Linked DNA regions of Homo sapiens. The protein of the gene in region 3 interacts with the protein of the main gene of each other region in a pairwise test. Each region holds a gene or a part of one and is shown on either strand. Other genes may lie near its edges.

Region 1 (7,483 bases), on a different chromosome or scaffold from region 3:
ACAGGGGGCTGGTCAGAGCCACACTGCAGTCGTCACACCCAGGGTCAGGGGGTGGGGCAGGGGGGTGACAAGGATTCAGAGAGCGCGTAGGGGACAGTTGCCCAAGGGGGGCAGATAACAGAGAGATACTGATTAAAAGGAAGAAATAGGAACCCAGAAATAATGGAGAAAAAATCAGTTACATACAGGCCACGTGCAGTGGCTCACACCTGTAATCCCAACACTTTGGGAGGCTGAGGTGGGCGGATCACCTGAGGTCAGGAGTTCGAGACCAGCCTGGCCAACATGGTGAAACCCTGTCTCTACTAAAACTACAAAAATTAGCCAGACACGGTGGCTCATGCTTGTAATCCCAGCACTTTGGGAGGCTGAGGCGGGCGGATCATCTGAGGTTGGGAGTTCGAGACCAGCCTGACCAACATGGAGAAACACCGTCTCTACTAAAAATACAAAATTAGCCAGGTGTGGTGGCACATGCCTGAAATCTCAGCTACTCGGGAGGCTGAGAGAGGAGAATCACTTGAAGCTGGGAGGCAGAGGTTGCGGTGAGCCGAGATCACACCATTGCACTCCAGCCTGGGCAACAGGAGCGAAACTCTGTCTTAAAAAAAAAAAAAATTAGCCGGGCATGGTGGCGCACACCTGTAATCCCAGCTACTCGGGAGGCTGAGATAGGAGAATGGCTTGAACTCGGTAGGCTGAGGTTGCAGTGAGCCGAGATCACACCACTGCACTCCAGCCTCAGTGACACTTACAAAAAAAAGAGACAGAAAAATCAGTTCCAGTTGACCCACTTTGAGGGACTTATTCATTTCCATCCACATGTTAAATGTGCTAAGAGCCTTGGAGAGGTGTGACAGAAGGAACATGTGACCTGCCCATCAGTCACAGAAGACCTTGTGTGTGGAGTGACACTGGGTGGAAACCTTTGACGAGTCCAGCGGAGCCAGGAGAGGAAGGAAAAGTAGAGGGAAAGGCATATGCAAATGGCTGGAGGAGAACAAAGAACTGGTCATTAGCGGAGATGGGGGTAGGAACAGGAACTCGGCTTACCTTCACATCATCTTCCTGAGTCACATCACAGAGGATAAAGACAGCTCCAGGGAGCTCCTGCTCCAGGGCCCGGCCCCCAGACTCTGCAGGGAGAGAAGAGCTGGGAGCCTGGACCCCTGGGTCTCAGGGAGGAGGGGTTGGGGACTTGGACTCCTGGGTCTGAGGGAGGAGGTGCTGGGGGCCTGGACTCCTGGGTCTGAGGGAGGAGGGGCTGAGGTCTGGACTCCTGGGTCTGAGGAAGTAGGGCCTGGGGGCCTGGACTCCTGGGTCTGAGGGAGGAAGGGCTGGGAGCCTGGACTCCTGGGTCCGAGGAAGTAGGGCCTGGGGGCCTGGACTCCTGGGTCTGAGGGAGGAAGGGCTGGGAGCCTGGACTCCTGGGTCCGAGGAAGTAGGGCCTGGGGGCCTGGACTCCTGGGTCTGAGGGAGGAAGGGCTGGGAGCCTGGACTCCTGGGTCTGAGGGAGGAGGGGCTGGGAGCCTGGACTCCTGGGTCTGAGGGAGGAGGGGCTGGGAGCCTGGACTCCTGGGTCTGAGGGAGGAGGGGCTGGGGGCCTGGACTCCTGGGTCTGAGGGAGGAGGGGCTGAGGTCTGGACTCCTGGGTCCGAGGAAGTAGGGCCTGGGGGCCTGGACTCCTGGGTCTGAGGGAGGAAGGGCTGGGAGCCTGGACTCCTGGGTCTGAGGGAGGAGGGGCTGGGGGCCTGGACTCCTGGGTCTGAGGGAGGAGGGGCTGAGGTCTGGACTCCTGGGTCCGAGGAAGTAGGGCCTGGGGGCCTGGACTCCTGGGTCTGAGGGAGGAGGTGCTGGGAGCCTGGACTCCTGGGTCTGAGGGAGGAGGGGCTGGGGGCCTGGACTCCTGGGTCTGAGGGAGGAGGGGCTGAGGTCTGGACTCCTGGGTCCGAGGAAGTAGGGCCTGGGGGCCTGGACTCCTGGGTCTGAGGGAGGAGGTGCTGGGAGCCTGGACTCCTGGGTCTGAGGGAGGAGGGGCTGGGGGCCTGGACTCCTGGGTCTGAGGGAGGAGGGGATGGGGGCCTGGACTCCTGGGTCTGAGGGAGGAGGGGCTGGGAGCCTGGACTCCTGGGTCTGAGGGAGGAGGGGCTGAGGTCTGGACTCCTGGGTCTGAGAAAGTAGGGCCTGGGGGCCTGGACTCCTGGGTCTGAGGGAGGAGGTGCCAGAGCCTGGACTCCTGGGTCTGAGGGAAGAGGGGCTGGGAGCCTGGACCCCTGGGTCTGAAGGAGGAGGGGTTGGGGACTTGGATTCCTGGGTCTGAGGGAGGAGGTGCCGGAGCCTGGACTTCTGGGTCTGAGGGAGGAGGGGCTGGGGACCTGGACTCCTGGGTCTGAGGGCAGAGGGGCTGGGGGCCTGGACTCCTAGGTCTGAGGGAGGAGGGGCTGAGGTCTGGACTCCTGGGTCTGAGGAAGTAGGGCCTGGGGGCCTGGACTCCGGGGTCTGAGGGAGGAGGTGCTAGGGGTCTGGACCTCTGGGTCTGAGGGAGGAAGGGCCAAGGTGAGGGCTGAGGGACCGTCACTCACCATCCTTGTCGCAGATAACCACTCGGGCCCCGCTGTTCACTGAGAATAGGAAGGGAACAGGTTACTCTCCGAGCCTTGGTTAAAGCCTCTGCCGCCCTCTTGTGGCCACCTGGATTGGGGCTGATCTCCCTCTCCCCTCGTGACCCCAGTCTCATGATCACCCATAGGACAGAGGGCAGACGCCTTGACACATACTCTCCTTGCCTTGTTTCTGCTGAGGCTCCTGAACCCCCGTTCGTGGCTTCCGGAGCAAACTCCACGACTGACAGAGCCATTCCTCAAACCACTGGTTTTGTAGCTACACCAACAGACCCAGAGAAAGGGGCCACTGCCTTCGGAGACCCTGCCAGACTCAGCCCTAGCCTACAGCGCCACACGCTTACTTTAGCCTGCAAATTGGCTTTTATAATATCAGAATCCTGGCTGCAGTACTGGAGTCCCTATTTTCCGCCCCCATCACCCCGCCCCCATCCTTCCTTTCTCACACTCCACAGCTCCCAGCAGTCAGACCCGGCTCACCGAAGGCGCGCACGATCCCAGCTCCGATGCCGCGCCCGCCCCCGGTCACGACCACCACCTTCCCGGCATAGCGCGTTCCCGTAGCCATCCCGTGTACGTCGGTCTCTCTCTCTCTCTACTCTGGGCCTCTTTCACCTCCAAAGCCCCGTGAGGCCGTCGCATCAAATCCTCAATAGAGGCTGGATCCTGGAAGTCCGGCCTCGGGGGGCGTTGCCAGGAAGGCTAGAGACCTGGAAGTTTGTCCCCAGCCCCTCCTCCCTCAGACACTCCTCTCTTCCCACAGACCCAGGAATCCAGGAGCCCCAGTCCCTCCTCCCACAGACCCAGGAATCCAGAAGCCTCAGTCCCTCCTCCCTCAGACTCGGGAGTCCAGGCCCCCAGCCCCTCCTCCCTCAGACTCGGGAGTCCAGCCTCCCAGCCCCTCCTCCCTCAGACCCGGGAGTCCAGCCTCCCAGCCCCTCCTCCCTCAGACCCAGGAGTCAGGGTCCCAGCCCCTCCTCCCTCAGACCCGGGAGTCCAGCCTCCCAGTCCCTCCTCCCTCAGACCCAGGAGTCAGGGTCCCACCCCTTCCTCCCTCAGACCCGGGAATCCTGGCCCAGCCCCCTCCACTCTCAGACCGAGGGATCAGGTTCTCTATCCCTTCTTCCCAGAGACCTATAAGTCCAAGCCCCCTGTCCCTTCCTCTCTCAGGACCCAGGAGTCCACGACTCCAGCTCTGCCCCTCAGAGACACCAGTGCCACAACCCCAGACAGACAGAAAGAAAGCTATTGACTAAAAGTTCAAAGTTTTAATCCAAATTTAGACAGTGTTGAGAAAACCAAACTTTGGCCATAGAAACCATTCCCCTCCCGGGCCCGCAATGGGGACCAGACCACGCCCCCTGATGCCCTGAGTGGTCCCAGATCTCCGGCGGTACCTCCAGACCACGTCCTCGCGCTCCGATTGGCTGCCGCTTTTGGGCGGATTAGAAGCTGGATTGTAGCAGAGTGACTCGCAGAGGCCATGCCCCCTCGTCTTGTGGCAGGACCGGAGGGGCGATCCCGGCATCCCACGCGGGCCCCCAGGGGGTGGGACCTCCTCCACGCCCACTCCCTCGGCGAGAGAACCCCGTGGAACCCGAATTAGCCACCGGGGGAGATCTGGGGGGAGGGGTCTCCTGGCGCGTGGGGTCCGAAGGAGGCAGCGGCACACCGGGAAGAGGGTCTCCCTGGGAGTCCAAATTTCCACCTGGAGAGGATGAGTGGGACATGAGAATGGCAAACCTCAGCGCTAGGACCCCGGATTCCCAGCCCCTCCTCCCTCAGACCCAGGACTCCGGATTCCCAGCCCCTCCTCCATCAGACCCAGGAGTCCAGGCCCCCAGCCCCTCCTCCCTCAGACCCAGGAGTCCAGGCCCCCAGCCCCTCCTCCCTCAGATCCAGGAGTCTGGATACGCCAGTCCAGTCCTCTTTGAGACTCAGTTGTCGGCCCTCTCCCCGCCCCCTGACCTCTTCCTCCCCTCCTCCCAAGTGTCCCGGACCCCAGTCACCTCTTGCCTGAGACCTAAAACTCCCAAACCCTGCCCAACTCTTTACTCACCAAGATAAAAAATTCTCACCGGCCCCCAGACCCCTCCTCTCCAGGACCTGGGATTCCAGGTCTCCAGCTCTCTCCTCCCTAAAACCCAGAAGTCCAACATCCCCAGCCAGTCACCTGTCATCATTCTGTGCCACTGCGACGCCTCAGTAGCCAGGGCTTGGGAGAGGCTGAGAACCCGCTCCCGGTGACCTTCGGAAGTCGGCAAGTAAGGGGTGGTGTTCCTTGGACTAGAAAAAAAAAGAAGATTGGGGGTGGGGGTGTGTACATGGGGGAGAGGTGGGGGATGGTTAATTGGTACAAAAAGAAAAGGATGAATAAGACCTACTATTAGATAGCACAACAGAATGACTATAGTCAATAATAATTTAATTGTACATTTTTAAATAAATTAAAGGGTGTAACTAGATTGTTTATACATCAAAGGGTAAATCCTTGAAAGGGGATGGATACCCTATTCCCGATGATGTGCTTATTTCACATTGCCTGCCTGTATCAAAACATCTCAATTATCTCGTAAATATATGTATACCTAGTATGTACCAACAAAAATTAAAAATTAAAAAAAAAAAAAAAAAAGCAGGCCAGGTGCGACAGCTTATCCCTGTAATCCCAGCACCTTGGGAGGCCGAGGCGGGCGGATCACTTGAGGTCAGGAGTTCGAGACCACCCTGGCCAACATGGTGAAACCCAGTCTCTACCAAAAAATACAAAAAAGTTAGCCAGGCATGGTGGTGGGTGCCTGTAATTCCAGCTACTAGGGAGGCTGAGGAAGGAGAATCATTTGAACCCAGAAGGCGGAGGTTGCAGTGAACTGAGATCACGCCATTGCACTCCAGCCTGGGAGACAGAGCAAGACTCCGTCTCAAAAAAAAAAAAAAAGTAAAAAATAAAAATAAAAATAAAAAATAAACAGCTGGCACAGTGGGGACCCGGGTACCGCACGTGCCTTTCTGGGAGTTGTAGTTCCTAGCACGTGTCTCTAAAATACGTTAAACATGGCACCGCCCTCATACCGCCCACATGCATTACGGGATTTGTAGTCCACTCGCGCGTCACTATCACCCAATTTCCTTGATGCAGAAGTAGGATCTGCTATTGACCAAGGGAATTTGAGGAACTAAAGATATCACTACGGATCTAGGGCTTTCTGGTTTTGTTGCAGATGCCCCGGGAACTTAAGCATCTCTAGAAGGGTTGCGATTTGTACTTCCATATTCAGGAGACTTTAATAATAATGCTACTCCCCTTTGCTTTTGCAAATTTTTTTTTCCTGCTCCCTTGATACGCCCTCCAGTTCCTTACCTACTCCAGGACCCAGAGCTTCTGAGCCATTTCTGGGCTCCCGAGTGTCCTACGACAGGCTGGAAAGGAATTGGGGCATTAGAACTCCTCACCTGGAAGCCCCACGTTCTCATTTTGAGGGTGAAGTGAAGGGGGCTCCAAAAGAGAATGAAATTGCCCAAAAACACTGGCAATGTTTTGTTTTGTTTTTCCTATGCTTCTGTAGGCACTGAATTTTTAAAAATTAATTTATTTTATTTATTCATTTTTTAGAAAGGATGGAGTACAGTGGTGTGATCATAACTCACTGTAGTCTCGACTTCCCAGGCTTGGACTAATCCTGCTTCAGCCTCCTGAGTAAATAGAACTACAGGCTCGCACCACCATGCCTGGCTAATTATTTTTATTTTTATTTTTAGTAGAGACAGAGTCTTGCTATGTTGCCCAGGCTGGTCTCTTACTCCTGCCTCGGCCTCCCAAAGTACTGGTATTACAGGGGTGAGCCATAGCACCCAGTGACTGACAATGTTTAACTTTACCTGTGTTCCTATAAAGCAGCACATGAGTTCAGAAATCCCACCTCCACCACCACCACCTGTGACTTGTCTAAATCCTTTCTATAAAAGTCTAAGGGGCCGGGTCTGGTGGCTCACACCTGTAATCCCAGCACTTTGGGAGGCCGAGGTGAGCAGATCACTTGAGGTCAGGAGTTTAAGAACAGCCTGGTCAATATGGTGTAAACCCCGTCTCTACTAAAAATACAAAAAAAAAAAAATTAGCAGGGTGTGGTGGCATGGGCCTGTAATCCCAGCCACTTGGGAGGCTAAGGCAGGAGAATCGTTTGAACCTGGGAGACAGGGGTCGCAGTGAGTCGAGATTCCACCACTATACTCCATCATGGGCAACAAAGGGAGACTCTGTCTCAAAAAAAGAAAAAAAAAATCTAAGGGGAGGTTAGGTGCAGTAGCTCACACCTATATTCTTAGCACCTCCTTCCAAGGCAGGAGGATCACTTGAGCTCAGGAGCTCGACACCAGCCTGGCCAACGTGGTAAAAATCTGTCTCTACTAAAAATACAAAAATTGGCTGGATGTAGTGGCATATCCCTGTAGTCCTAGCTACTCGGGAGGCTGAGGCATGAAAATCACTTGAACCCAGGAGGTGGAGGTTGCAGTGAGTGGAGATCGCACCACTGCACTCTAGCCTGGGCGACCTTGTCCCTGAAAAAAAAAGAAAACATCTTTTTTTTTTTTTTTTTTGAGACAGAGTTTCACTCTTGTTGCTCAAGCTGGAGTGCAATGGCAAAATCTTAGCTCACCACAACCTCCACCTCCTGGGTTCAAGCGATTCTCCTGCCTCAGCCTCCCAAGGAGCTGGGATTACAGACATGTGCTACCATGCCCAGCTAATTTTCTATTTTTAGTAGAGACGGGGTTTCTCCATGTTGGTCAGGCTGGTCTTGAACTCCCGACCTCAGGTGATCCGCCCTCCTTGGCCTCCCAAATTGCTGGGATTACAGGCG
Region 2 (7,640 bases), on a different chromosome or scaffold from region 3:
ACAAAAAGAAAAGAAAGTTGGTACAAAGGAATAGTAACAGATAAAAGTTGAAAAGGTTTGGTAGGGTTGGATTGTGTATAACTTTGGATTCCAGGCAGAGAAATTTGAATGACCTGTTATCTGTACTAAGAGTTGTTGTAGATCCTTGAGCCAGGGAGCCATAAAATGAAAACAAATTTGACAAGGATTAAGTTAATATTGTCAATCTTAGATCACAGCCCTAGTTAGGGTTGTTGAAGGATAACAGAGTGTTGAAGCGTTTATAGAATAAGATGTGCTTTCTAATCTTTCAGCCTAAATCAAGCTTTGTTAGCGCTAAAGGGACCAGCTAGCTTCCTGTTCAGTCACTCAGAGTAGCAGCCTGCAAATTTAAATGCAGAAGGAGCACCCTTTGATCACAAAAGCAGCTGCTGCCACCTTTGTTTTGTACCTGGGTTCCTGGTGAAAGTGTCAGCTGTAAAGAAGCTGCAGGCGATGGGAGGGAAATAACCTGGCAGCCTAAGGGTTAAAGGCCTCTTGGGCAAGCCTTCAAAGCCTGCCACTACCTGGCCCCAGCCTTTTTTTCTCACTGCTCCCTGGACGTTTAATTCCAGGCAGCCACCTTTATTCGTAGTTCCCTGAGTGCTTTCCTTCCCAATTCCCTTCACTAGCTCTGTGTAATCGAAGTTAGACCTGAGAGTCAAGGCCCAGCTTGAGTTCCCTACCCCTCCCCAAGGGTTTCCTGATTAACCCAGCCAGACAGCATCTCATACGTCAGAATCTTTGTAGTACGCACTTATTTCTCAACCACTCATGTATTTAGTGGACTAGTTTAGTAGCTGTTGCTGTATACATCTCCACATCCTACCCTCCCAGTTGTACCACCAGAATCTCCTGAAATTGGCATCAGTAGGTACACAATAAAAACTGCTTGAGTGAATGCAATGAGAAATGTTGAAGGAAGAATCTGTGGAATTTGAGTTCTAACTAGTTATTATAGGGCTTGAAGGAGATAGAGGACTCTAAGAAGACCCCAAGGTTTTGAACCAGAGGATGAGGAAAAGAAATACTTTGTCCAAAATTAGGACGAGAGCTGATTTTCAGAGAATGTGATTTTTGAACACGTTGAATTTGCAGGTGATGGATATAATTTTTTTCCTTTTAGTTATTTGGATTTTCCTTCATTTCAGTCTTTATTGTATTGTGTTTTTCCATGTTTGTGATTCCCTAAGAATACCTCTATTCCTTAAGTCAAAGTATTAAAGAACAGTAAAATACAGTTTAGTGAAATATCTGAGGCATTATCAGCAGAAAGGGCATTTTGAGAGCTTGATTGGAACTTAGTCCTGATTGGGATTTTTCTCTCTCCTGCTCCTTCTCATCCTCCCACCCTACCCGCTTCCCCTCACTTCCCTTTGGCTGCTAGTCCAGATTCTCAAGAGGCTTCAACTCCATCAGACAGAGATCTGTTTGTGCATTCTGTGTCAATGATCACATGAATACTCCTTTGACTTCTCAGTGCCCCCACACAAACTGGTGCCTTGCTAAGGAAAGTGTGGGTAGTTAGGAGGTGCTAGTAGGTCCATTTTTAAGAGCAAATCTTGAACGTGTTGGAAAATCTTAGACCCTCCTATAAAGGGAAATGAACTTACACTGATTTTTTCCTTGATACCAGCGAAAATACCGTTAGGAAAATTAACTCTCTGTTAGCTTTCTTCATCCCAGGAGTCCAAGTGCATAATTAATAGTATTTCCAGGTATTACGGGTGTGTTGTTGTTGTTGTTTGTTTGTTTGCTTTTGAGATGGAGTTTTGCTCTGTTGCCCAGGCTGGAGTGCAATGGTGCGATCTCTGCTGACCGTAACCTCTGCCCCCCAGGTTCAAGTGATTCTCCTGCCTCAGCCTCCCGAGTAGCTGGGATCACAAGCATGCATCACCACACACGGCTAATTTTGTATTTTTAGTAGAGATGGGGTTTCTCCATGTTGGTCAGGCAAGTCTCTAAACTTCCGACCTCAGGTGATCTGCCTGCCTTGGCCTCCCAAAGTGCTGAGATTACAGGTGTGAACCACCATGCCAACCCTGGTTATTTTTAATTTTGGATAATTTGCACCATTAAAAGAATTAATCACTTAAAGTTAGTGGCCCATGGTCCATAAACCCAGGAATTTTACTTCTTTCTCATGCCAACCCAATCTCTGTTTATATCACTGTGGTAACACAGAACTTGTTACACTGTGATTGTTTTATTTATTTATTTTAGAAGCAGGGTCCACTCTGTTGCCCCAGCTGGAGTGCAGTGTGACCTCGAAGAACTTCTGGGCTCAAGTGATCCTCTGGCCTCAGCCTCCAGAGTAGCTGAGACTACAGGCCCGTGCCACCACACCTGGCTAATTTTTTTGTAGCGAACAGGGCCTTGTTTTGTTGCCCAAGGTGGTCTCCAACTCCTGACCTCTAGCGATCCTCTAGCCTCAGCCTACTGTGATTGTTTTAAATGTCTTTCTGGGCTAGGCATGGTGGTTCATGCCTGTAATCCCAGCACTTTGGGAGGCTGAGGTGGGAGGATTGCTTGGGCCCAAGAATTCGAAACCAGCCTGTACAGTATAGTGAGACCTTGTCTCTACAAAAATCTTTAAAAATCAGCCCAGCATGGTGGTGTGCCTGTAGTCGCAGCCACTTGGGAGGCTGAGGTAGGAGAATCACTTGAACCCTGGAGGGAGAGGTTACATTGAGCCAAAGATGGCACCACTGCACTCCAGCCTGGGTGACAGAGCAAGACTCTGTCTCAAAAATGAATAAATGAATGAATGTTTGTCTTTCTGCTCCAACAGACTATGGACTTCCCCAAAACTCCCTGCCCATATTTCTATCTTAAGCCCTAACATGGTACCCTATTTATAATATTCAGTAAATGTTGAATGAAAACGAACATATGGCTTTTTTTTTTTTTTTTTTGGGAGATGAAGTCTTGCTCTGTTGCCCAGGCTGGTGTGCAGTGGCGCGATCTTGGCTCACTGCAACTTTAGCCTCCTGGGTTCAAATGACTCTTCTGCCTCAGCCTCCGAAACAGCTAGGATTACAGGCCCATGCCATCATGGACAGCTAATTTTTCTATTTTTTTTTTTTTTTAGTAGAAACAGGGTTTCATCATGTTGGCCAGGCTGGTCTCAAACTCCTAACCTCAAGTAATCCACCTGCCTCGGCCTCCCAAAGTGCAAGGATTACAGGTGTGAGCCACCATGCCTGGCCACCATCTTCCTTACTTTTTTTTACGGTCTTGTAATAGCTTTATTATCTCATTTTTCTCTAATTTTTTCTTTCTTTTCTTTTCTTTTTTTTTTGAGACAGAGTCTCACTCAGTCGCCCAGGTGGGAGTGCAGTGGCTCCGTCTCCACTCACTGCAAGCTCTGCCTCCTGGGATCACACCATTCTCCTACCTCAGCCTCCCAAGTAGCTGGGACTACAGGCGCCCGCCACCACGCCCAGCTAATATTTTTGTATTTTTTTTTAGTAGAGACAGGGTTTCACTGTGTTAACCAGGATGGTCTCAATCTCCTGACCTCGTGATCCGCCCGCCTCGGCCTCCCAAAGTGCTGGGATTACAGGCGTGAACCACCGCGCCCGGCCTCATTTTTCTCTAATTTTTTCTACTTTTATACTTTTTTTTTTTTTTTTTTTTAGATTGAGTTTCACTCTGTAGCCCAGGCTGGAGTGCAATGGCATGATCTCAGCTCATTGCAAACTCTGCCTCCCAGGTTCAGGTGATTCTCCTGCCTCAGCCTTCGGAGTAGCTAGGATTACAGGCATGCGCTACCACACCCGGCTAGTTTTTGTGTTAGTAGAGACAGGTTTTTGCCACGTTGGCCAGACTGGTCTCAAACTCCTGACCTGAGGTGATCCACCCACCTCGGCCTCCCAGAGTACTAGGATTACTGGCATGAGCCACCGTGCCCGGCCTTATAGTCACTTTTATGTTTGTGCTGCATTAATTCAAGAATTTTGTGAAAGCTATATGAAGACTAAAGGGCTTTGCCAGGAGAGTTCACCCACATACTGGGATTCAAGGAACCACATGCAAATGGCTATTTATTTGTAATTATAAAGCAGCCATTTTCATATTAATGTATGCAGAATGCCAAAGAAGCATTTTTCTTTTTTTTTCTTTGAGACGGAGTCTCGCTCTATCGCCCAGGCGTGATTTCGGCTCACTGCAACCTCTGCCTCCCAGGTTCAAGCAATTCTTCTGCCTCAGTCTCCTGAGTAGCTGGGACTACAGGCGCATGCCACTACACCCAGCTAATTTTTTAATTTTTGGTAGAGATGGGGTTTCACCATATTGGCCAGACTGGTCTCGATCTCCTGACCTCATGATCCACCCACCTCGTCCTCCCAGAGTGCTGGGATTATAGGCGTGAGCCACCACGCCCGGCCTTTACCTCAATTTTTTTAAAAAAATGAAAAAATAGAAGGTACTGAATGGGCCCTATTTGGCACTTCTTGTCTTAGAGCCTTCGTTCCAAATATAGACCCTAGCCTGACATCCACAGAGGGTTTTGATGGTATTGCTGAAGAAAAATGATTCAGTTCATTGATATCCTTTGCTATTAACAGTTGTTAGTCCCCTATGGCTTCATCTGTACAATTATTAACTCCTTCTGTGCCCATTATTGAAATTAGTTTTTAGATGGGTTGTTTCAGCAGAGTTTTCTGTACTATAGCCAGGCTGTTCCAAGAAAGTACCCTTTTCTACCTTCCCAAATGTTGCAATGCCCTTTTGTGGTTCGTAACCCAGAAATAGGTGTTTCAGTTCATGTAAGTGTTGCCATTAAGGAATTGGGTATAGAACCCAACTTGGTTTGTTTGGCCTGTTAGTCTGGCTGCTACCCCTTCCCCCACCCTTACAGTCTGCTCATTTTTTCCCTTGGCTCTTTCTCAGGAGCTGGGGCAGCAGCTGGGCCTTCCACATCCTGGCACAAGTGGGCTAAGAGTGCCTGATGTCTAAATTGGTGCCAGTCACGAGCTATAAGTCCTAACTAGAGCTCTCATTTTCCTCAGTCTCATTGGACGACTTCTTACTGTGGTGCTAGAGTGAGCCTCTGCCCAGGTCAGCTCATAACTGTTGCTGTGAGACCACAGACTTTAGGAGAACTGGAAGTTTAGGATTTCTTCAGACCTCTCTTTCACTTTTTCCAGCATTGGCACAAGCTGACTAGTTAAGGTTCTGCATTTAGAGGTAGGTGGATTAGGAACCCAGAACAGGCTGCTGGAAGTAATTCTCTGGTTGTCACACCTTATTTAGCTATAAGTGTTCAATGTGAACCAAAGCCTTATGAAGATTGTTAGCCTTTTACCCTGTTTCTCCCTTGAAAATACATTCTAAGATGCTTCTCTTCAATATATGTGAGTTACTATTGTGCTGCTAAAATTGCATTTAAAGGCCAGGTGCAGTGGCTCACATCTGTAGTCCCAGCACTTTGAGAGGTCAAGGTGGGTGGATCACTTGAGCCCAGGAATTTGAGACCAGCCTGGGCAACATGGCAAAACCCTGTCCCTACAAAAAAATACAAAAATTAGGCGGGCATGGTGGTGCATGCCTGTAGTCCCAGCTACTCGGGAGGCTGAGGTGAGAGGATCACTTGAGCCTGGGAAGTCGAGGCTGCAGTGAGCCATGATTGTACTACTGCACAGAGCTAGACCCTGCCTCAAAAAAAAAATCCAAATAATATAGGTAGATACTCCTCCCTCCAGGAGGTGGAGTTTAATCTTCCCCTCCCCACTGAATGTGAGCTGGACTTAATGAATACCTTACAAATAAAAGAGTACCAGAAAGAGAAAAGTAGTAACTATAGTGCAGAGACCTGGCAGACATACCTTAACCAAGTGATAAACATTAACATTGCCAGTGATGGAGAAGCCATGTTACTATCTTATATCCCTGATATGATATGTTGAGAAGGGTACTTCACCTCTGTGATATTCTTTTTTAAAACCCATAACCCCAGTCTAAACATGAGGGAAACATCAAACAAATGCAAATTGGGGAACCTTCTATAAAGTACTTCTTTAAAACTATCAAGGTCATGAAAAACAAGGAAAGACTAAGAAACTTTCACAGACCAGGAGAGACTAAGAATTCAAGATGACTAACTGCAATTTGGTATTCTTAATTGGATCCTGGAACAGAAATTTGGCATTAGTGGAGAAACTATTGAAATCTGAATAAAGCCTAGAGTTTAGTTAATAGTGTGTATCAGTGCTAACCTAATCTCTTAGTTTTGACACTCGTACATAGTTTCACAGATGTGTGCCATGTAAGACGTTAACATTAAGAGAAACCGAGTGATGGCTATACGGGAACTCCGCACTGTCATTGCAACTTTGCTATAAATGTAAAATTATTCCAAAATGAAATATTTCTTTTAAAACAATAGTCTACCTCTCAACCCTTAACTATGCATTTTCCCTCCCTGAAGGCAACAAATGTTATTAGTTCCTTTTATATCTTCCAGAGATGTAAATAAATGCAAATAAAAACAATCCCCCCTCCCTTTAAAAACAATGCTACGCACATATTATATACACTGTTTATACACACTGTTATTTTAGATCTTGACTCATTATCAGTATATATGTAGCTTCAGTCTTTCTTCATTTGTCTTTTTAAAAGTAGCTACAGGCCCGGTGTGTTGGCTCATGTCTGTAATCTCAGCACTTTGGGAGGCCAAGGCAGGCGGATCACTTGAGCTCAGGAGTTCGAGACCAGCCATAGGCAACATGGCAAAAGCCCCATCTCTACTAAAAATACAATCCAGCCTGGGCAACAGAGCAGGATGCTGTCTCAAAAAATAAAAATAAAAAAGATTAAAAAATAAATAAAAGTAGCTACAGAGAATTCCATTGTATGGATGTACTATAATTCATTTAACTGGTTTCTTATTGATGGGCATGTGTTGTTTGCAGTCATTTACTGTTACGAATAATGCTGTATTGAATAACGTTATACATGCATTATTTTGCACTTTCACAGTACAGTTAGCCCTCCATATCTGTGTGTTCTGCATCCTTGATTCAAGCAACTGCAGGTCAAAAGTATTTGGGGGAAAAAATAGCAACTGTACCAAACATGTATAGACTTTTTTCCTGTCATTATTCACTAAACAATACAATGTAACAACTATTTGCGTAGCACTTAGATTGTATTAAGTATTATGAGTAATCTAGAGATGATTTAAAGTATACAGGAGAGTGTCCATAGTTTGTATGCAAATACTCTTACCATTTTATATAAGGGTCTTGAGCATCCACAGATTTTAGTATCCTCAGGAGGTCCTGGAGCCAGTCTCTCATGTATATACCAAAAGATGACTAGATAGCTAGAGGATAAACTTCTAGCTTTCCTGGGTTAAAGCCTATATGTACCTGGAATTCTAAAGATGTTATATTGCCCTCAATATAGGGTTGCACCAGTTTATAATCCTACCTACAATGTTTAAGAATGTCTGTTTCTGAATATCATGACCAAACATAATATATTGCTAAGTTTTTTGTCTTTGCCAGTCTGTTAGATTTTCTTAAAAAGTTTCTGTGTAGTTTAATTTACATCTTTTATTGTAAATATGGTTGAGCACCTTTTCGTACATACTTGTAGTTCCTTTTATGTGG
Region 3 (7,640 bases):
AATTCCATTTTTTTTTTTTGAGATGGAGTTTCACTCTATTTCTGTAAAAAGGCAAAACTCATCAATGGTCACAGGAGGACAAGAATTACCTATGGAAAGAAGGGACAGTGACTGAAAAAGAAGATGAGGAGGGCCTCTGGGGTGTTGGTAATGTCTCTCTCTTTTTTTTTTAATCTATGTAGTAGTTATGACAGTGAAAATTCATCAAGTTATATACTTAGGATTTGCATTTTTCTATATTTAGGTTACAGATTAAAGGATTTACTTACAAATATAAAGAGCGTATCAGAATACAACCTTGATTTTTCCCATTTAGACTATTCTAAATAACACTGACTCACAGTAATGTCAAAATCAAGTTGTGTACATATGGATAACTCATTGTTGATAAAGACACAAAGGCAATGTAGTGGATAAAGGATAGCCTTTTCGATATATCCAGGTGCTGAACAACTGGATATCCACATGCAAAAAAATGAACTTGAATCCATACCTTACACCATATACACATATTAACTCAAAATGGATCTTAGACCTAAATGTAAACCTAAAATTCTATCTGATCAAAGACTTGTATTCAAAATGTTTAAAGAAGTCTCAAAATTTAACAGTAAGAACACAAACTAATAAAAAATAGGCAATTATTCGAACAGACATATCATCAAACAAGATACATGGATAGCTAATAAGAACATGAAAATATGGGAAATAAAAATTAAAACCACAATGAGATACTGCCACATGCCTATTAGAGTAGCTAAAATTAAGGCCAGGTATGGTGGCTCATGCCTATAATCCCAGTGCTTTGGGAGGCCGAAGAAGGCAGATCACTTGAGCCCAGGGGTTCAAGACAAGCCTGGGGAACACAGTAAAACCAACAAAAACTATAAAAATTAGCTAGGTGTGGTGGTGCATGCCAGTAGTCTCAACTACTAGGGAGTGTGAAGTGTGAGGATCACTTGGTTCCAGGAGGCAGGGGTTGCAATGAGCCAAGTGAGCCAAGATCACAGTACTGTACCCAGCCTGGGCAACAGAATGAAACCCTATCTCCAGGAAAAAAGAATGGCTAAAATTAAAAGGACTGACCATACCAAGGGTTCACAAGGATGTGAAGAAACTGGAACTCTCATAACTGCTGATGGGAATATAAAATGGTATGACCACTTCATGAAACAGTTTAGAAATTTCTTAAAAAGTTGGCCAGGCACGGTGGCTCACGCCTGTAATCCTAACACTTTGTGAGGCACAGATGGGTGGATCACTTGACGTCAGGAGCTACAGAGCAGCCTGACCAACGTGGTGAAACCCCATCTCTACTAAAAATACAAAAATTAGCCAGGTGTGGTGGCACATTCCTGTAATCCTAGCTACTTGGGAGGCTGAGGCAGGAGAATCACTTGAACCCGAGAGGCAGAGGTTGCAGTGAGCTGAGATTGCGCCACTGCACTCCAGCCTGGGCAAGAGTGACTCCGTCTCAAAAAAAAAAAAAAAAAAAAAAGTTAAAACATACACACCTACAAAGCAATCTGGTCATTCTGCTCCTAGTATTCACCCAAGAGAAATGAAAACATACATCCATACAAAGATGTAGACACAAATGTTCACAGTATCTGTCTTTGTAATAGCCCAGAACTAGCAATAACCCAAATATACATAAACAGCCAATAACCAATTTGTGGTATATCCATGCACAATTACTCAGAAATAAAAAGAAACAAACTATTAATACATGCAACAACATAGAGGAATCTCAAAATAATTGTCATAAGTGAAAGAAGCCAGACAAAATAAGTATACATCCTGTATGAATCCATTTATATAAACTATAGAAAATGCAAACTAATCTATAGTAACAAAAATCAGACAGGTGGTTGGTTGGGGAGGTGAGTCATGTAGGGGTGGGAAAGAGGGATAACAAAAGTCCATGAGAAAACTTTTTGGGAAAGTGAGCATGTTTAAAAAGTTTTGGATAAAGTGAATATGGGGTTGGTGTGTATGTTCACTGTCTTGATTCTGGTGAAAGTTTCATGGAGGTACATATGTCAAAATGTATCAAAGTGTACCATTTAGGCTGGGCGTGGTCGCTCACGCCTATAATCCCAGGACTCTGGGAGGCCGAGGCAGGTGAGTAACTTGAGGTCAGGAGTTCGAGACCAGCCTGGCCAACATGGTAAAATCCTGTCCCTACTAAAAATACAAAAAATTAGCTGGGTGTGGTGGCAGGCGCCTGTCATCCCAATTACTTGGGAGGCTGAGGCAGGATAATTGCTCGAACCCAGGAGGTGAAGGTTGCAGTGGGCCAAGGTCACACCACTGCACTCCAGCCTGGGCAACAGAGTGAGATTCTGTCTCAAAAAAAAAAAAAAAAAAAGTACCATTTAAATATATGCAATTTGTTATGTCAAGTAAACGTCAATAAAGCTGTTTTTAAAAGGTTGTATATAAATATTATACACCAGAATTCCTATAATTAGCTGAAAATTAATCCCATTCATTCCTAACAACAAATATTTATCTAGCACCTACCATATGCCAGGCACCCTGCTAGAGTTCTAGGGATACAATGGTAAGCAAATTGACAATATTCCTAACCTCATGAAGTAGTCTGCCAAGGAAGCAGAGATTAATAAAAGATTTAGACAGACACATATAATACAAACTGTAACAAGTGCTATAAAGGAAAGGTACACAAGGAGAAGACAGACTATAATAGGAAAATCAAATCTACTCTGACAGAAAAATCAGTGATGGATACCCCAAGGAAGTCACATGTAAACTGAGGAAGAAAAGGATAATAAATTGAAGATGGAACTTTGCTCAGAAGAGACACTAATAGAAGCAAAGGCTCTGAGGAAGGAGAAAGCATAAATCTTTGAAGGAAAGGGAAGAAATCCAAAAGGCCAAAATCAAAACAATGTAGACAACACTATTGGTCACCTATTTAATAACTGTTCCACTTCTCTTTCCTCATTCCTACCAGAAGTTCAATCATCTACCCTCCTCTATATAGTCACATGCTTTAGAGGAAGCTGACTCCATCCTTGATTTTAGGAAATGGATACTCTTTGTTTTGACTTAAGTCAATCATGGCAACCTCTGTCTCCCTGCCAGTGACTGGTAAAGGAATAGCATGAGTAAAAGCAGAAAAAAGCGTTATTGGATGCTCTAAACAAGAAATGGTAGTTTGGACTATGGAGGTACCAATGGATATGGAGATGTACATGAAGAAATAAGAAAGAGCAAAGTGTCCAGGATGTTCCCTAGGTTTCTTAGGTAAATAATAGTCTATCCTTTCTATACAGCCAAAAGCAGGTGAAATATTTTTTAAATATATTATTAATAATCTTATGTTACTCTTAATGTATTTCTCTAAAATTAGTAAAAATTATTTAAAGATCACACATAAACATACCTGATACTTATGTAGGATACTGGCCTCAGAAGGCCAGGCAAACTTATCAAGAATGAATCAATGAGGCTAATTAGATTTCGTCTTAGGATACAAACATTGTTTTATAGAATTCTAACATATAATTAACAATAATGGCTACAAATAACATCAATTTTGGAAAATCATTTATTTTGCCTTGCCTTCCTTAAAAAATTATTTAGGACAACAAAATGTCTCAATAAATTAAAAGTCAAACCAAGAATTTAAAAACGTCTATGGATTTTTGACCACTCTGTGCTATTTTAAAATCATTCCAGAGAAACTAGATAGAGATATATAATCAGTTATGCTAACCAAACTTATATAAATTAGGGCTTATAACAGTAATAATTAAGACTCTTATTACAGATATCAACTGACCCAGGCAAAATATAAATTACCTTGACAAGTTGATGAAGTGCCATTTCTTTCAGAAGGTGGTGTGCTTGGATAGTTGAAATGACGTGAAGTTCCTTGGTTCATGTCATTGTTTGTAAAATCCTTTGAATGGCATGCACAACAACATGACAATTGTACTTCAGCTTTTTCACTTACGCCCTCATCTGCTGGTTTCCCTAAAAATGAAAGAACATCTATTTATAATATATCTAATTAAATAAACATCAATCATTCTCTACAGCCCAGTTCACCCAGGATTGGGAGGTTTCCTAAGATAAAAGATTTTTAGGGCTAACACCAGGAAGGTACCTGGCAAACCTGGACAAGCTGGTCACTTTATCTGCAGCATCAAATTAGGACAGGAGAGAAATAAGCCAAAAACATTTGGTTGGACACAGTGGCTCACGCCTGTTATCCTAGCACTTTGGGAGGCCGAGGCAGGCACATCAATTGAAGTCAGGAGTTTGAGACCAGCCTGGCCAATATGGTAAAACCCTGTCTCTACTAAAAATACAAAAATTAGCCAGGCGTGGTAGTGCACGCCTGTAATACCACCTACTCAGGAGGCTGAGGCAGGAGAATCGCTTGAACCTGGGAGGCAGAGGTAGCAATGAGCAGAGGTCATGCCACTGCACTCCAGCCTAGGCGACAGAGCAAGACTCTGTTTCAAAAACCAAAACAAAAACATTTATAGGGAAATTATCACCCATTTATGTAATCTGTAAAAATCTAATAATCTAAGATTAATAATGTAATAAAAGTACAACTACTCAAGTATTCATTTATATTAAGATTTATCTAAAATTCAAGAATGGATTGAAACAAGGACATAAAGTATATCCTTAATTACTACTCTTTCCCTAAATGAAGAATTTGAAAGTTCAATATATTAGATAATAATCTAACACATAAGGGTTAAATCATTCCCCCAATTATACTTCTATTTCAAATAGAAACATGTTTTTTGATGTATTAATTCTGATACTTGCATCAAAATACATTTTAAGGTCAATATTCAAATCAATAAAATAGGTAATTTTAGTGCTAAATATAATACCAAATTGTAATAAGTTTACATTGTGTGCCTACATTGTATACAAATGTACAATTCATATACCCCCAAAAAAGCTAAATAATTTATTTTTAAAAATAATCAGTATTGACATTGTTTTCCCATTTGTACCATATAAATATTCCTAATTCTATTTTCCAGACATCTGCCATTAAGACCTGAAGTTAGTACCGATAAACTCATTTTTCCCAAAATTAACGTCAGTGAGAATCAAAATGAACAACCAAAAGCTTATGAAGTATTTACTGTTTTTTTTTTTTTTTGAGACAGAGTTTCGCTCCTGTTGCCCAGGCTGAAGTGCAATGGCGCGATCTCGGCTCACTGCAACCTCCACCTCCCAGGTTCAAGTGATTCTCCTGTCTCAGCCTCTCGAGTAGCTGGGATTACAGGCACACGCCACCTCACCAGGCTAATTTTGTATTTTTAGTAGAGACGGGGTTTCTCCACGTTGGTCTGGCTGGTCTCAAACTTCCAACCTCAGGTGATCCACCTGCCTTGGCCTCCCAAAGTGCTGGGATTACAGGCGTGCGCCACTGTGCCCAGCCTTAATATACTCTTATTAGTAACAAACATTTCATTTTAAAAATGTATCTATATACCTATATACACATACATACATACATACACATACCATGTTTAACCTCAATTCTCCTAATACTTTAGGTTAAAGCCATCTAATGTAACTAAAATGTATCCAATATTATATTTCTGATTCATTATGTAGTTTATATAGTCTTTCATAGAAGTAAATATTAATAGGCATTTGTTAGCAAACAAAGTAAAAATAGTTTGGCCTGGTGGCTCATGCCTATAATCCCAACTATTTAAGAGGCTGAAGCAGGAGAATCACTTGAGCCTGGGAGTTTGAGGTTACAGTGAGCTATGATCACATCACTATGCTCCATCCCAGGTGACGCCACTCAAAAAAAAAAAAAAAAAAAGGAAAAGTAGTGGGAAGTAATATAAATTCATACAAACAATATTATACTAAATTTCTGTTTATCTGGCATTTAAACAAGTAGAAAGATCAACTAGAATGTATTCTTTTTTATATATTCCATGTGCTGATGTTATGAGAAAGGAACAGGTAAGCAAATATATTAAAGGATTTCCCCCCCCAAAAAAAGCAATTAGTATGTGTTACAGCATCATGACAGCCCATCTCTTGCATCTTTTACATACAAATTATCATCTAATTATTTTTATAATAACTCTAAGCATCCAAAACTTTGTTTGTTTGTTTTCTTTCACCCAGGCTGGAGTGCACAATCACAGCTCTCTGCAACCTCGACCTCCTGGGCTCAAGCGATCCTACCACCTCAGTCTCCCAAGTAGCTGGGACTACAAGTGTACATCACCATGCCTGGCTAATTGATTGTCAATTTTTGTAGAGATGGGGTATCACCATGCTGCCCAGGCTGCCAAGTCTTTATGTACTTTCCGACTCATCAAAAGACTAAATTATGTTCAATACTATTTTAGCATTAATTAAACATATTTTGCTATATTGAAACTCTTTTGGAAGATTTATAACTTATTTCAAAGAAACATCTTTAAACAAATATTTAAGTTAGCGACAGCATGGCTGAACCAGTCTGGATAAAGAATACTGTATTATATTTTCTCAGATCCCAGTAAGTAACCTGAAGATATCAAGCAACTACTTACCACTAAGAGATTGTTGCCATGCTAAAGCAGAACAAAGTAAGGCTAAGCTTTTTCCACTTCCTGTGGGACTCTCCAACAAACAATGTTGCTTGCTGTTTAATCCTCTGAGAATCTATGAACACAGAAACCAATGAAAATAATAAACATATTAACTTTATAAAGGTCTCTCTCCATCTGAAGTTTAAATAGAACAGCAAGGAAAAGTGAGATTGCACTCCAGGGAACACAACAATAGCAGAAGGAACTCATATTTAGTTAAATCCAAACTGTATTCCTTTACACCTCTCCCTAAGATTATCTTACTAAAATATCAAGCACAAGAGAAGAAATGAAAAGAGGAATCTGTGCCAGAATTATGCAAGCATCAATGATTTCTGTAAAACCAGAATACATTACTACCTATCAATATATTTGATGAAAACTTAATGAAGGATACTGCTAGTGAGAGTACAAATTGTTACAACTACTTGGTAGAGAAATAAACAATTTCTTATAAAGTGAAGATGCCCAGCTCCAGCAAGTCCAGTTCTATGTGTACACCCAAAACCTTTCCCACATGAACACAAGGAAACATGCATAAGAAAGTTCACAGCAGCAGCCACGCTTGTAATCCCATCACTTTGGGAGGCCAAGGCAGGTGGATCATTTGAGGTCAGGAGTTCGAGACCAGCCTGGCCAACACGGTGAAAACCCGTCTCTACTAAAAATCCAAAAATTAGCTGGGCGTGGTGGCGCATCCCTGTAATCCCAGCTACTGGGGAGGCTGAGGCAGGAGAATAGCTTCAGCCTGGGAGGCAGGGGTTGCAGTGAGCCAAGATCGCGCCACTGCACTCCAATCTGGGCGACAGAGTGAGACGCTGTCTCAAAAACAAAAAGAAAAAAGGAAGTTCACAGCAGCATTGTTTGTAACTGCAAAAGAATGTAAACAACCTAAATGTCTACCAATAAGAAAATGGACAGATAAATTCTGGTATATTCATCCAATGGAATTTATACAACAATTAAAATGGATTAAGAATCAACAGGGCTATACATTAAAAATAATGCTAAGTTAAAAAACTCAAGTTCTGC

Evidence for each region.
Region 1: the proteins of BRIP1 (region 3) and HSD17B14 interact in binary tests that used the Homo sapiens proteins (3 or more experiments, as listed by UniProt).
Region 2: the proteins of BRIP1 (region 3) and MMS19 interact in binary tests that used the Homo sapiens proteins (3 or more experiments, as listed by UniProt).

The regions. Positions count from the first base shown.
Region 1 is NC_000019.10:48,833,223-48,840,705, forward strand, and holds the start of HSD17B14 (L-fucose dehydrogenase), read right to left. Parts: upstream 3,270-7,483; 5' UTR 3,190-3,269; coding exon 3,102-3,189; intron 2,622-3,101; coding exon 2,583-2,621; intron 1,137-2,582; coding exon 1,054-1,136; intron 1-1,053. Other genes in the region: PLEKHA4 (pleckstrin homology domain-containing family A member 4), read right to left, coding at 4,067-4,329, 4,795-4,907, 5,983-6,041. UniProt on the Homo sapiens protein: Catalyzes the NAD(+)-dependent oxidation of L-fucose, yielding L-fucono-1,5-lactone, which rapidly converts spontaneously to L-fucone-1,4-lactone. Can also act on D-arabinose and L-galactose, with lower catalytic efficiency. Does not use NADPH.
Region 2 is NC_000010.11:97,488,154-97,495,793, reverse strand, and holds part of MMS19 (MMS19 nucleotide excision repair protein homolog), read left to right. Parts: intron 1-7,640. UniProt on the Homo sapiens protein: Key component of the cytosolic iron-sulfur protein assembly (CIA) complex, a multiprotein complex that mediates the incorporation of iron-sulfur cluster into apoproteins specifically involved in DNA metabolism and genomic integrity.
Region 3 is NC_000017.11:61,853,227-61,860,866, forward strand, and holds part of BRIP1 (Fanconi anemia group J protein), read right to left. Parts: intron 6,682-7,640; coding exon 6,570-6,681; intron 4,006-6,569; coding exon 3,832-4,005; intron 1-3,831. UniProt on the Homo sapiens protein: DNA-dependent ATPase and 5'-3' DNA helicase required for the maintenance of chromosomal stability. Acts late in the Fanconi anemia pathway, after FANCD2 ubiquitination.